Linked DNA regions of Homo sapiens. The protein of the gene in region 1 interacts with the protein of each later gene in a biochemical or structural test. Each region holds a gene or a part of one and is shown in the gene's direction. Other genes may lie near its edges.

Region 1 (7,037 bases):
ATGATCAGCTATATTTGCCTAAATCTGCATAAATGGCTTGCTTCCCAAAAGACTAATATTATGGGTGTTTCCTATTCAAAAATAATTAATGGAAAAAAAAATTTGGACTCTAATTAAGCACTTGAGCTCATATACTTAAACAAGTAATATGGTGATAATGCCCTAAATTCAAATAATCTCAATGTTCATGGCTACTTTTTCCATGGGTAAAACTTAGAAAGGAAAAATTTCTGTCCTTTTCCTTCTTGCATGAACTGAACAGTTAAGAGAATGAAATGCCTCTGGTTTTGTGAAGAATAGTTGAGGTAGGAAAAGAAAAGGTTGGAAGTTAGGGGATAGGGCTTGGCGATGTAGCTGGATGGGAAAAACCAATGTCATCCTCAGAAGTATTGATGCAGTGACCCAGTTGCAGCCAATAATATACAACATAAAGGGTGTAGGTAAAGATACAGGAGATTCAAATAATAAGCAATTCTAAATTTGATCTAATCCAGGTATACCTTCTTTTTACATAGAAAAATGTTGGTTTCTTCCGAACCTGCTTTTTGAGGAACGAAGCATAGAAAAAAATGATCCAAAGCAATGTAAACTCTGATTGGTATAGTTGAGAAACCCCAAATCTCCTTGCTCCTAGGTAGTCTCCTTTATGATTCTTGTAAAAGAGCTCACCCAGGAAAAAGTTTACAATGTGGTGGAGATATAAAGTTCAGCAACATTGGATCCTCTGCAGTGTGCATCACTGTGGCCCATCTTGAGTGTCATTGTTGTGATGATAGTTTCAAGTATGGAAGAGTCCAAGAGAACTAGAGCAGACAACTGGGAAAGAAAAGAGTGAAGGACAGTGATAAAGAAGGGAAAAGAAGAGTTGGGTATGGGAAAATGAAAGGACAAGTGTTCCTGCTCCATGGGCCTGTGCCAACTTAGTATATAGCCATTGGCCCATATACCAAAGTGTAGGACTGCCGTAAAGGGCACCAAATTATTCTGCTATGAAATTAATTAAAGAATTCATATACAATTGTTTTAAATTCTATTGAGAGAAACAAGGAAGAATTCCTGTCTTCTAACAATGTCCTAGGTCATAGAAAAACTCAGTAGATTTTAAATATATTCAACTTTTTAAATTAAATTATCATTTTGTTTATATACTAAGAATGTAAAGTTATGTTTTCATTAAAACTTTAGTAGCAATGAGTAAATTATATGCATTTCAGAGAGAAATTATGACTTTTGTATACATATTTTATGAGATTCCTATGAGCTTAAAAACAATTAGGATAAACTTTAAGAGCAAGACCTAAATTACTCCTCTTTTGTAAAAGGACTTTATAATTTCACTGAGCATGTTAAGTATTAAAAATTAGATTTAATTATAATACAGACAATTCTTCATTACAAAACTGAAGAATAAAGGATTAAACTTTAATAAAAATCATAAAATCTTGTCTATAAGTAGTGCTCAATAAAAATTTATTAAACTGAATTTAATTGAAACCAGGAAAGTGAAGTAAATACTTTATCAAGATTTATCCTAACACCATTACCTTATTTTGTAATTCACAACAGATATGTTTACATCTGACAAGACTCCTTCCTTCAATAATTCAGTATTTGTCTTACAGATTCTTTTATTAAAAAAAAATTTTCTGACCAGTAGGGATAGGCTAGATAACTACTTGAAACAGTCCAAACTCAAAGATACTCAAATTATAAAATTCATAATTTGACATAATTTTCTTCGTATATGTTTCTGTTATATATAATTTGTCCTGTACCCCTCTACCATTTTTAGAGACATATGAATGAATTTCGATGTTTTCACAATTTACTTAGAACATTTGAGGCAGACTGCATATTCCCCTAGGACCTTATTCTATAGGTTTAAGGATAAATGTATTTGTCATTCTGCAATCAACAACTGAAGACGCAGTTTAGTATTTGAGATAAATTCTTGTGGGACTACTTGAGATGATCTTCAGCTAATTTAAAACAGAACATTGTTTTTTAAAATGCCAGCAGGACAAGTTTTTTATCAGCTAGGCCAGAAAGGACTCTGGAAAACGTGCTGGATTTAAGATTACTTTTTTGAGTCCAGTTCTTCACACATAGACGTCGTCTCAAAATAAAATCAAGACTTAAATTATCCTGGCAAATTTTGAAATACATGAGTTGGGATATAGCAAACATAAAATGCTTTTGTTTAACTACAAAGCAGACAGAAGGTACCTCCAGCATTTACTGAAGGCCTCTTATGACACAGGTATTAAAGTTTGACATATATCATTTAATTTTCACAACAACCATATGATGGAGATTGTTCTTGTACAGATGAAGTTGATGTTCTGATAGGTTAAGTGACTGGTCAAAAATTACTGAAGTCAGATAGCCAGGACATTGGCCACATGCCACATTCAATAAATACAGTGACAGAGTAATCAAAGCTGAGAGCGAATAACTTGCTTCTGTTTATTTGGTCCTTTATTTCACTAATTTTTACTCATATTAATCACAGATTAATTATGACATAGATTTTGGAATCCTGTATTATTTTTGCCTATTTTTTATGTTTTGGGAAAATAATACATTTGGAAGAATTTACTGATTACTTCTCATCATTTGATAAGAATTACGATTTCTCTGATAATGGTAGTCAGCAATGAGTCCATTAAATCACACATATATTATCCCTGCCTGGAGATACTATCTTCAGTTCAAAGAACAAGTGACTGGGATAATGACATAAAAATACATAATATGGAGAACACATAGACTCTGAATGTTATGTCATGTGTTCCATCTCCCTAATTTCAGAAAGAATCATCCTTCAACTATCTTGCATAGAAAATTATGTAGCATATATTGTGCAACCAGAGGCAATTTTCTCCTCTATAAATAATATCAAGGTTGAACAACCACTACATATAGGAAATGTATCCTCATGTTGCTGTTTAACATTAATTAAATAACTATTACTACACATGGAATAAACATAAATCACTCATTCACAGGTAATATTTCTTAGTTTTAAGCAGGAAATATTGAACATGCTTGGCTGTCTTGTCTATTTTATGAAGGAAAAAATGTGTAGCTTTATTAGACATTTTAGGAGCTTACACTTTGAGAGAATACTTATGTACATAACTCGAATAAATCTCATGTCGCCATAGGGGGATATTAATTTAGAATGTGCAAATGACAACCACATCCATCTCTGGCAATAGCCTGCCACCTGGCCTGAAATTCCTACTGGTAGAATCTACCAAAGGACCATCATGAGAAATGTACATTTCTAATGTACTTAAATGACTTAAGAGATTTAGTTCCAGTGCATGAAAAGTAACAAATCCATAGGCATTAATCATCACCACAAATCATTATCTAGCCTAGAACAAGGCCCACAAAATATAAGACAAGACAGAAATGTGGAGAGTGGCAGGTAGAAGGAAAGTTTATAGCACAAAACGTTAAGAAACAATTGAACCAGCATAATGGCACTTTGCAAATGTGAGAAGGTAGAAAAACTTCTGAAAAGAAATGAAAGGGTATTCTTGTCAAAACCCACTGTACCTCTTCCAGACGCTTTGCCGGAATTTGATCTGATGGCAACTTAATTCCTTCTTAGCCTTGGATCAATAGAATGCAACTTCCAGTTTCCTTGTTAGGGTCATGGATGCTTTAAGAAAATCCCCCTTCATTCTGTTATCAGCTGTCTCAGAACATATCTAAAGGAATCAGTATTTTAAAAATATAAAGAATAGACTATTACAGCAAATCAAGCAGTACTGTGGTTTCAGATCGCAGTAAAAGTTTAAAACATAGACTTTGAAATCAGTGGGACCTGAGTATGGACCCTGGCCCCGCCACTTACTGGCTGTTTAGGCTTGAAAAAGTTACTTACCCTTTCTGAACTTTACTCAGTCTTCTCATCTACGTGATGGATATAAATTAGAACTGACATCATGAGGTTGTTTAATAAGATCAAATGAGATTATACATATATGTTTCAGCAAACTAAGTGCCTAACTCATAATAATCACTCAATAAAAGTTGGTGATTTTTGGAGAGAAAGAAGAAATACTGAGATTAATTAAGAGAGTAGAAATAATGATGATGACAATGATGCTGATGATGATAATGATGACAATGATCCATGAAGAAGCAGTTGTTTTGCATGAGCAACGTATTGTGTATAAGTAATATAATATGTACCTGATTGTTTTTTTTTTTCTTAATTTTCAGTGTGCACCTAATTGGCCTATTGGTTTGGCAATCTGATATTTCTGTGAGCCCAGTAGCAGCTATAGTAACTGACATTTTCAATACCTCCGATGGTGGACGCTTCAAATTCCCAGACGGGGTACAAAACTGGCCAGCACTTTCAATCGTCATCATAATAATCATGACAATAGGTGGCAACATCCTTGTGATCATGGCAGTAAGCATGGAAAAGAAACTGCACAATGCCACCAATTACTTCTTAATGTCCCTAGCCATTGCTGATATGCTAGTGGGACTACTTGTCATGCCCCTGTCTCTCCTGGCAATCCTTTATGGTAAGTACAATTTTATTCACTTTTCAATCTCGTATAATGTCATAAATTTGTGTCATAGTAAACACTCATAAAGTTAATTATTTTACTTGTAACATTTGGAAAAAGAAAAAAGCAAATCGTGTGACAGAAGGAGTTGGATGTATGTATCATATTTATTAAACAAATCAGTAACAGTCTTCCAAAAGCAAAACATACATTTTATATATATTAAAATCATACATAGATGCTCTCTTGCTTAGTGTCTTTGTAAACAATGAATGAACAGTTAGTTGCCTTACAATGTACTGAATGAGACATTAACAGAAACATCTTTCAACCCCTGTGTTCTGGGCAGTACACATACCTACTACCATCTCTGATACAAAGAAGGAAAAACCGGCTCATCCTCTTTAATAAATATATTTTAAGAAATCCTTTTTTAAAGCTGCCAAACTAAGTGGTTGACACAAAACAGGCACTCAATAATAGCTATTCTTCTTGTTCATGGAGTCTATAATTTGTGTTATTACAAAGAGACAAGAGATAGCAAAATTAATTACTAAGTATATAAGTGTAAGTTCATATCATCACTTTAAAAATTCAGGCATTGAAAGTTTCAATATATTGATTTTAAAGAGGTTTTTAATTTTTCTTTTGATTTTCTTCCATCCCTTCATTCTGTTCATTTTAACCTAAGGTTTTGTTTCTAGCTAATATTTATGATGAACAATCAAATAGTTTATACAACTCTACAAAGTATCTTTACTAGGAAGTTGGAGAGCCCAGTTTGAATTTAATTGCTAATATGCTTATCTCACAAAGGAGTAAAATAGACTTCCAGTTGCCTGGAGTGTATAATGGAATTAGACTAGAAGAAATAATATTGAAAGTGTATCTAGTTGTCGAATCCTAAAAGAAAATAAATGCATCTAGAAAATAATCTCTCATGTAATGTAAAAATTAAGTAGCCTGTTCTATACCTATGGCAACAGTAGATTATCTTAATAGGCATTTTATAAAGTGTTCTCAGAATATATGCTTTTCATATTCTTCATCGAGTTTCAATGATGCATTAGCCTTAAAGCACTAGTATTTTATCTGCTCAGTGGGCATTTTACCACTCTATTGCTCCAAAATTAAGAAAAGATTACTGGAATGAAGTGAAACTATGATTTAGAAGGTATACTGTGTTCTGTGGTGTCTGTTTCGCCAGCTTCTCCCTTTAAAAAAATGTGAGTGGCCAAATAATGATATTAGCATAAATCCAAGTCTCTTAACATATCTATTCCCCTGCCCAAATAAACAAAGAACAATATAAAAAACAAATAAAACTGCACAATACCACCATTAAGTGTGGAGAACATTCAAATTTCAAATTACCTGTAAGTAGGAAAACAAATGGGAAATAACATTGAACTATCTATTAGACTTCTACCCCATGCTGTTGCGTAGAAGAAGAGTAGTCCAGGAAAGATAGCATGAAATAAACTAGAGGAAAGCTATTAGGAAGCCTAAGATTGATCTAAAACCACCACAGGTGGCCGGGCGCGGTTACTCACGCCTGTAATCCTAGCACTTTGGGAGGCCCAGGCTGGCGGATCACTTGAGGTCAGGAGCTTGAAACCAGCCTGGCTAACAGGGTGAAACCCAGTCTCTGCTGAAAATACAAAAAAATTAGCCGGGCGTGGTGGTGGGCGCCTGTAATCCCAACTACTCGGGAGGCTGAGGCAGGAGAATTGCTTGAACCTGGGAGGCAGAGGTTGCAGCAACTCGAGATCACAACACTGCACTCTAGCTTGGGCGACAGAGCAATACTCCATAAAAAAATTTAAAAAAAAAACCACCACAAGCAAGTAAGTCTACCCCAAGTACGAAAATACTGAAAAGTTTCTCTAGAAGGTCAGCTTTCAGATAAGGTACTGAAAAGTATGCATAAGACTCAAGAAAGCAGCCTTGGAAAATTAACTCTTTGGAGGTGGAAAAAGGTAAAAAAGGAAGCAAGAGGTGACTTGAAAAAAAAAAAGCACAGTGAAAGGAAAAAGAAGCAAGAGGGGGAAATTTATCATCTTACAGTACAGAAAATGTCAAAATATTAGGACCCATCACCCCTCCCTCTACTGTCTCCCACTGTCCCCCAAAGGCCCTCCAGTAAAGAAACCATACTTTGATACACAAAGAAAAGAGGATGCTCTTGAGCTTGGAATTTTGGAAGCTACCTACAAACTGTCAGTCATGTTCATAGAAATTCTGAGATGCAACCAATCTTCATCTATACCAAGCTACTATAGAAAAAAATCAGAATATGAGAATAGAAAGAAGGCATTTGATGAACATTCCCTCCAATAAAGAATGATCAAGCCGAAGAATATGCTAGCAAAACACTTCAAAAAAAATCTGCAAACAAGCATGTTAAGGTATTAAAAAATGTACTTTGAAGTAGTAATCTAATAACTAAGAATAGAAATGGTCAAAAAAATAGGACAGCATGAAGGAAAATTAACTGAA
Region 2 (7,037 bases), on another chromosome or scaffold:
GGTGGGAAGTGCGCCAGGCCGCTCACCAGGTGCACTGCCCTGCTGACCATCTTTCCTCTCTGGCTGCTGTTCCAGGCTCAGCTGATTGCACAGTCCATCGGACAGGCATTTAGCGTGGCATACCAGGAATTCCTCAGGGCCAATGGGATTAACCCCGAAGATCTCAGCCAGAAGGAGTATAGTGACCTGCTCAATACCCAGGACATGTACAACGATGACCTGATCCACTTCTCCAAGTCGGAAAACTGTAAAGATGTGGGTACTTACCTGAAGCTGTTCTCCAGGCTGGGTCAGCTGGGCAGGGGCTTGGAAAGTGGGGCACCCTGCCGCGGAAGTGAAGGGAGATCAATGGTGAGGAGTGCCGTATTGGCAGGACATCATGAAGTCGTTCACCCCCATCTCTCGCTCCCTGCTGTGGGGCCCTGTCATGAAATGCTATTGTGGACAGGTGTAAACAGAGAGGCAGCACATCCTCTGCTCCTGGTCATCCTGAGCTAAGTTTTGGGTGGGTCCCAGAGGCAGATAGGACCTGAACTCTGCTTGTACAAACACTGCAATCTAGGTAAGGGCACTGAAAAAGTTAAATGATGGTGCCAGGTACAGGCACTAATCAAAACCAACTACACTTGGACAAACAGAGAAGATCTCAAGTTTCAGACAAGAGGTGCTGTGCTTCTCTGGGGATGGCCTGTGGCTTCAAACTGAGCTATTCAGGAATGCCTGTAGGAAGATGAGGCTATCCAAGCTGGTCTGGCGATCTGGGGATTGTAGGGGCAAGCCGAGGGTGGGGTCTATGGAATGGTTGGAAGCCTGGAGATCAGAAAGCTCCACATTTGTCTAGGGAATGAGGAAATACGGTTTGGCTAGAGCAGGAGGTAGGCACAGGAAAGGAGATAGATGGGCCTGAGATCTGGGTCAGAACTGGAGGGCCTGCAAGTCCAGCTGAGGGGTTTGGACTTGATCCCATAGGTAAAAAGAACTTTTAATGAGAAAGTGATCATTTGATCCACTGGGGTCTGTCAGGTGTCTTAGGTCAGATTCCCCAGAAGCAGAGCCTGAGGCAGGGATTCTTGTCACAGAGGTTTGTTGGGAGAGTGCCTCAGAACAGAAGGGATGTGGGAAGCTTGGTGGTGGGACACCAAGTAAGGGTGTGGTCCCTTGGACATGAGCTTCCTTCTGTCCAGAGGGAAGCTCCATGGCACATATTGCAGGACAGATTTGTCTCACCTTGGAGCGAGGGAGCTGGCAAGCCTTTGTACCCCATGCCGGTTATTGGCCAAGGCTGGACAGGGGGTATATGAATTTACTAGGGCTGTTGTCACAAAGTACCATGGACTGGGTGACTTCAACAACACAAACCTATTGTCTCACAGACCTTGTGGCCAGAAGTCCAAAAGCAAGGTGTTGTTAGCATTGGTTCCTTCTGAGAGCCGTGAGAGAAGAATCTGTTCCAAGCCTTTCTCTGGCTTGTAGATGGCTGTCTTCATGCTGTGTCTTCACATCAGCCTTTCTCCATGCATGTCCCTATGTCCAAATTTCCTCTTTTTTTTTTTGATACCCATGACAGACAACCATTCCTCTTCTTAAATAAGGACATGAGTAATATTGGATTAGAGTCCATATTAATCACCTCATTTAAAATTGGTTACCTCTGCTAAGACCTTATCTCCAAATAAAGTCACAATCTAAGTCAAAGGCACTGGGGGTTGGTAATTCAACATACAAATTTTGGGGGGACACAATTCAACCTTAACAGAATGTGTCTCCCTTTCAGCTAAGGACAGTTCTCCAGGGAAGGGGCTGACTGTAAGCTTCAGCAGCTGGGGGAAGCAGACACCAACCTGTGAAGGGGACTTTGTCAAGCCCCCCAAAAATACACATACACACTCTGTTGGGTGCTTCCAAGAGGTGTGGTACCTTTTAGTGGCATATCTGCAGGCCTCCCCAGAGTGCAAGTATCCAACATCAACCCCTGTCTTCTCTGCCCTGCCAGTGAAGGTTGTGAAAAGTCTGTGTATCCAGGATATGCACTTCCTGTGTGCACACCCAGCCTTTTGGTTGTGATAACTTCAGCATCACTTTTTCTTTTTTCTCAACTTTTTCCTTGCAGAGAAGTGTTTCTGTGTGTTTATTTATTTTTAACTCAAGAAAATTAAATGTCGGAGCGAATTGGGGAAGCACTGTGGGAGGGGGAACCTGCGCATGGAATTTGAAAAGCTATTTCTAGAAACCATAACACACCACCCACCCACAGAGCCTCATCCCCTGCCACTGAGGACAGGACTGAAGAAATTAAAAAAAAAAAAAAAAAAAAAAAAAACTGGTGGTCCTCATGGTTGTGTGCTGAGGCAAGTTTGCTTATGTGAAACGAGTGAATTACAAAAGAGTGTAGACCTGTGTGAATTCATTTCTTAAAAACTCCAAATATGCGGAATGCTGAGAAGACAGGAACTCATCTGGGTTGGTGTCCCCAGGGAAGTGTCTTTCTTTAGGCAAGACAGGAATGGGGGAGAGGCTTTCATTTCTACCTACCCCAGATGGTCACTGATGGAGGTTTTCTAAATGTTTTTCTCCTTCCAGGTTTTCATAGAGAAGCAGAAAGGAGAAATCCTAGGTGTGGTGATTGTGGAGTCTGGCTGGGGATCCATCCTCCCCACCGTGATCATTGCCAACATGATGCATGGTGGCCCTGCGGAGAAATCTGGGAAGCTGAATATCGGTGACCAGATCATGTCCATTAATGGCACCAGCCTGGTGGGCCTGCCTCTGTCCACCTGCCAGAGCATTATTAAGGTACCTGAATATGGGAAAAATCAGTTGATGTGGTAAACCTCAAGTGATGTGAAGTGTGACCCCCATCCAGTCATTAATGTATATGAACATATTCAAAGTGTCAGGCACCAAGGAAGACACAAACACAAAAGGCGTGGACTTGCACTCAGGAAGCTTACCATCAAGTTACTGTTTACAGATTCTTCCCTGAAATCAATTTAGATTAGGGGAAGTGTATTTGGTTCACATGACACTACTTTCTGATAGCAGCATGTCCATCACAGCATCACTAGTCAATCACAGCATTCTCCCACTAAGCCCAGACTCAGCCTCAACAGAAATGGCCTCAGCTTGGGAATCCAGACAGTCACTTATAGTCAGCCAGATACACTTGGCATGATTTACCATCCCTGTCAAAAATGTCAGAAATGCTTCAAATCTGAGAGTGCTTTTTCCTTCCCAGTGGCCCTGACTATGATGCAGGTGAGTTTGTCCTCCCTCAGACCCCGGGTAAAGCAACTCACATGTGCTCATTGCCAGAAGGAGGAGGAAACTCTCTTCCAGTCCATGGAAGCTTTTTCATACCTGAGCATACTTCCTGCTCAACCTGAACTGATGCTTATAAAGCTAAGAAGAGCTACTTAAAGGAAAATTAAATGTGAATACTTGAGAAGAAATGAGATTTTCTTTAGACATGAAGCATTCATGTGGAGTTTTTTGAGCACATTGGGACTTGCTGAATGCATGGCCAGTGTGACCAGGATGTTCCTCCTCCATGATGGCATCTGTAGACCCCAGTAGCTCTGCACCAAGTGCTGCGGTACTGTAGCTAGACTGAGATTCCACAGCGTTTTTTGGGGTCCTGTAGGGGTTTCCTGAAAGACTTAGCTGGAACATAGCTGTGTGCGTATGTGCATGTGTGAGAGAGAGGGAGAAGGAAGGGGATTAATTCGTGCAAATAGTCATTGTGAGCAAAAGAAAAATCACAAAGCCAGCCTCCTCAGCTAAGGGGGTGGGGGTGGGAGGTGAAGGTGAGTGTATAGGACACATGGATGGTGACTTTTTGTTTTTAATGAAATGGAGTAAATTCTAATTTCACATAAGATAATCACATCTGGAAAGAAATAGTCCTCTTTGGCCTCCTTTAATTTCTTTTTCTTATATCTTATACTTAAATAAATTCTACCTCTTGCTTAATACACGTTAAAGGTAAGATTAGAGAATCAACTTTGAACATGGATATTCATTCAGAAAGGTTTAATTGGGCCTCTGTGAGGCACTGAGCTGCGCTCTGAGGAAGCTGGCTTGCCAGTGTGCATGTGCAGGATAATTAGAGACGTGCAAGGGCTCTGCGGCCAACATAAAGGTGAGAGGCTACAAGTGATTAGATGGACAATTTTATGTGATTTTAAAGTTGACCTTGAAGGAATAAAACCTAGGTAGGTAGCAGAAAGGGAAGTGGCGTTTGGAAGTTTCTGCTTGAATTGATGGACAGGGGCCGGTGTTGAGTCAGGGAGAGATGGGGTCTGAGCCTGGCCCGGAACGGCTGGTCTGGTGTTGCTGTGATTGCATGGAGAGGCAAGCGGGGGGGTGGGGCTAGGGAGGCAGGACCACAAGTCGCTCCTGCCAGTGAGCAAGTTGCTTATTAAACACCTTGGGTGCATGCATGAGAACTGCTGAGGGGCTGTGGGACCCAGGGGCCCCGTGGACACAGTCCCTGCCCCCCAGGGAGCTTGGTCGGTTTGAGGAGAAGTGAAAGGACTTATGGCTCACAGTGCTCAGTGCTGTGTGTCTGTGCTCTGGATGCTCTGAGAATATGTGTGGACTGACTTGCTGAGCCTTCGGGGCAGCATTCTGTGGGCAGGTACTATTTTGTACCCATTGTACAAGCTAGGAAGCTGAGGCACAGCAAGATGATGTAATCGTCTGTGGTCATACAGCCTCCAATACAGAGTCATCCCAGGGAGGGTGTCAGGTGAAATGCTAGGCCCAAGGCCAGACCATGGGGCAGTACTTCTCAGCCAGGGGTGATCTTCATCCCCCAAAATGTATGGAGACTGTTTGGGTTGTCACGGAGGAGAAGGTGCTGCCAGCATCCAGTGGGTAGAGGCCAGGGATACTGTCAAACATCCTACAATGCACAGGACAGCCCCACAGCACAGAGTTATCCAGCCCCAAATGTAGGTAGTGCTGAGGTTGAGAAACTGCCTGAGCGGCATAGGAGTTCAGATGCAAGAGAGAGAAATCGATGAGAGAGGGAAGCTGGTTAGGGATGGTTTGTGGGGAGTTGGTCTGAGTCTAGAAGGGTTGGGGAGGAGGAGCGGGGATAGGGGGTTAAGTAAAGTATTGAGTAATATTTGTGTTCCCTCCAAATACATATTGAAACCCTAATCCCAATGTGATGTTATTTGGAGGTGGAGCCTTTAGGAAGTGATTAGCAGGAGGGTGGAGCCCTCATGGTTGGGATTAGTGCCCTTAAAAAAGGGACCCCAGCAAGCTCTCTTTTGGTATGTGAAGATGCTAGAAGTTGGCCATCTGCAACTCAGAAGGGGCTCTTGCCAGAACCTGACAGTGCTGGTACGCTGAGCTCAGACTTCCAGCCTCCAGAACTGTGAGGGATAAATGCCTGTTGTTTATAAGCCACCTAGTCTGTGGTACTTTGTCATGGCAGACTAAGAACAGACTCAGACAAGGGGAGGACTTAAGTAAAGGTGGGGATGGGGCCTGGGCAGGAACAAGCCGCGCTTCCTGAGGCCCTTAAGACTCCAGCTCATGGCCTGGAGTCACCTCCTTTCCTCCTCAGGACAGCCCACAAGGGGGACAGCAGATGCTAGGTGCACAGATGGGCCATCAGAGACTCTAAAGGCACAGGAGACTTGCCCAGGGCCCCCAGCTGGCCAGTGAGTCCCCACCCTCCTGCGAATCGCTCCTTCCTTATCTGCGTGGGGACCAGAGGAGGGAAGCAGTGAGGCTATGAGGGCAGCCTGACTCCCTCTGCAGCTGCCACAGCATCAAGGTGGAAGCAAAGCTTGCTGGAGTACAGACGGAGCTCTGTCTGCACAGTTTCCTAAGGGGAAATGGATTGTTTGAGGAGCTGAACTTTGATGTCTATAAATGTAATCTCTATAGAACCAGAAAATTAAAAGGCCGAGTGGTGATAAAAGAGATGTAACTGATGAAGATGAAGAGTAAGAAAAGAAAAGCAGTGCTTTCGTGGCCACCCATAGTGAAGAAGTACTTAGCAGGGCAGACCCCGATTAGAGCACAGCTGAACTTCCTCCCTGCCACAGTGCGCCGCTTGTTGAATGGGGAAATGTGATGGTCCGTCCGTGGACCACCCTGGCTGGTGGGAGGTGTAACCACTGATAACAGCCAGAATCACCAGTACCAAATACAGACTGACATCAGTGGGTCGTATCACCTTTTTAAAATTCTCTAGAAAACACACCCCTTTTTGCCTGCACCTGGACAGATGTGCACACTGCCCTACCCCCACCCCTCGGGCCACTGCAGAGCAGCATCTGGACCACTTCAAGGCTGTGTTCAAATTTGTTTCAGTGTATGTCCATGCTCTTTGCAGTGACTTTGACAAGCAACTCTCATCCTGATGAATCAGTGCTTCTCAAACTGATTGGAATCACCTGGGGATCTTGTTAGAATGCAGGTCTGATTCAGCAGGTATAGGGTGGAATTCTGCATTTTTGGCAGGCTTTGCGGCGGGGATGGCATCACCAGTCTGCAGGCTACACTTTCAGGAACAGGGATCCAAAGTGTGCATTCTGCATCTGGCCACTTCAATACTGGTTGACTATTGTCCCCCCAGGTTACAGGAAATCAATTTCTAGAGTAGAATTATAGGTATTGACTTGCCTTACTCTTCCTACCTTATTTTTTGGGTCATAATTAATTCCCAAGGCATAATTATTGGTGGGTGGAACATTTTACAGGCTGCCTCTTTCTGTGCCTTTGCCTCTGTGGTCCTGCCCTCTGGGTTTTTGCTCTGTTTTAGAATAGCGCACAGCTTCCCTTGCTTCCCCAGGAGCATCATGGTTCTGCTCTCCCGTTGCTATAGAGACCATTCTGGCTTCTCTTTTCTCTCTTCGCCCCTCTTCTCTGGGCTTCCCCTCCCACCAGATTTCTTAATTTGCTGTACCGTTCCACTGTTGTCATGGGGACCAAATGACCCTTTATTTAATTGGCACCTCCAATAAAATGGCAGCTCAGAAATCCAAGTTAATGGGACCCAACATGAAACATTGATTAGG

Evidence for each region.
Region 2: the proteins of HTR2C (region 1) and APBA1 form a complex in vitro, tested with the Homo sapiens proteins (2 studies listed by BioGRID and IntAct, with this or other methods).

What each region holds. Positions count from the first base shown.
Region 1 is NC_000023.11:114,727,055-114,734,091, forward strand, and holds part of HTR2C (5-hydroxytryptamine receptor 2C isoform a precursor), read left to right. Parts: intron 1-3,567; exon of another isoform or gene 3,568-3,722; intron 3,723-4,239; coding exon 4,240-4,553; intron 4,554-7,037. UniProt on the Homo sapiens protein: G-protein coupled receptor for 5-hydroxytryptamine (serotonin).
Region 2 is NC_000009.12:69,445,340-69,452,376, reverse strand, and holds part of APBA1 (amyloid-beta A4 precursor protein-binding family A member 1), read left to right. Parts: intron 1-75; coding exon 76-255; intron 256-2,580; coding exon 2,581-2,793; intron 2,794-7,037. UniProt on the Homo sapiens protein: Putative function in synaptic vesicle exocytosis by binding to Munc18-1, an essential component of the synaptic vesicle exocytotic machinery. May modulate processing of the amyloid-beta precursor protein (APP) and hence formation of APP-beta.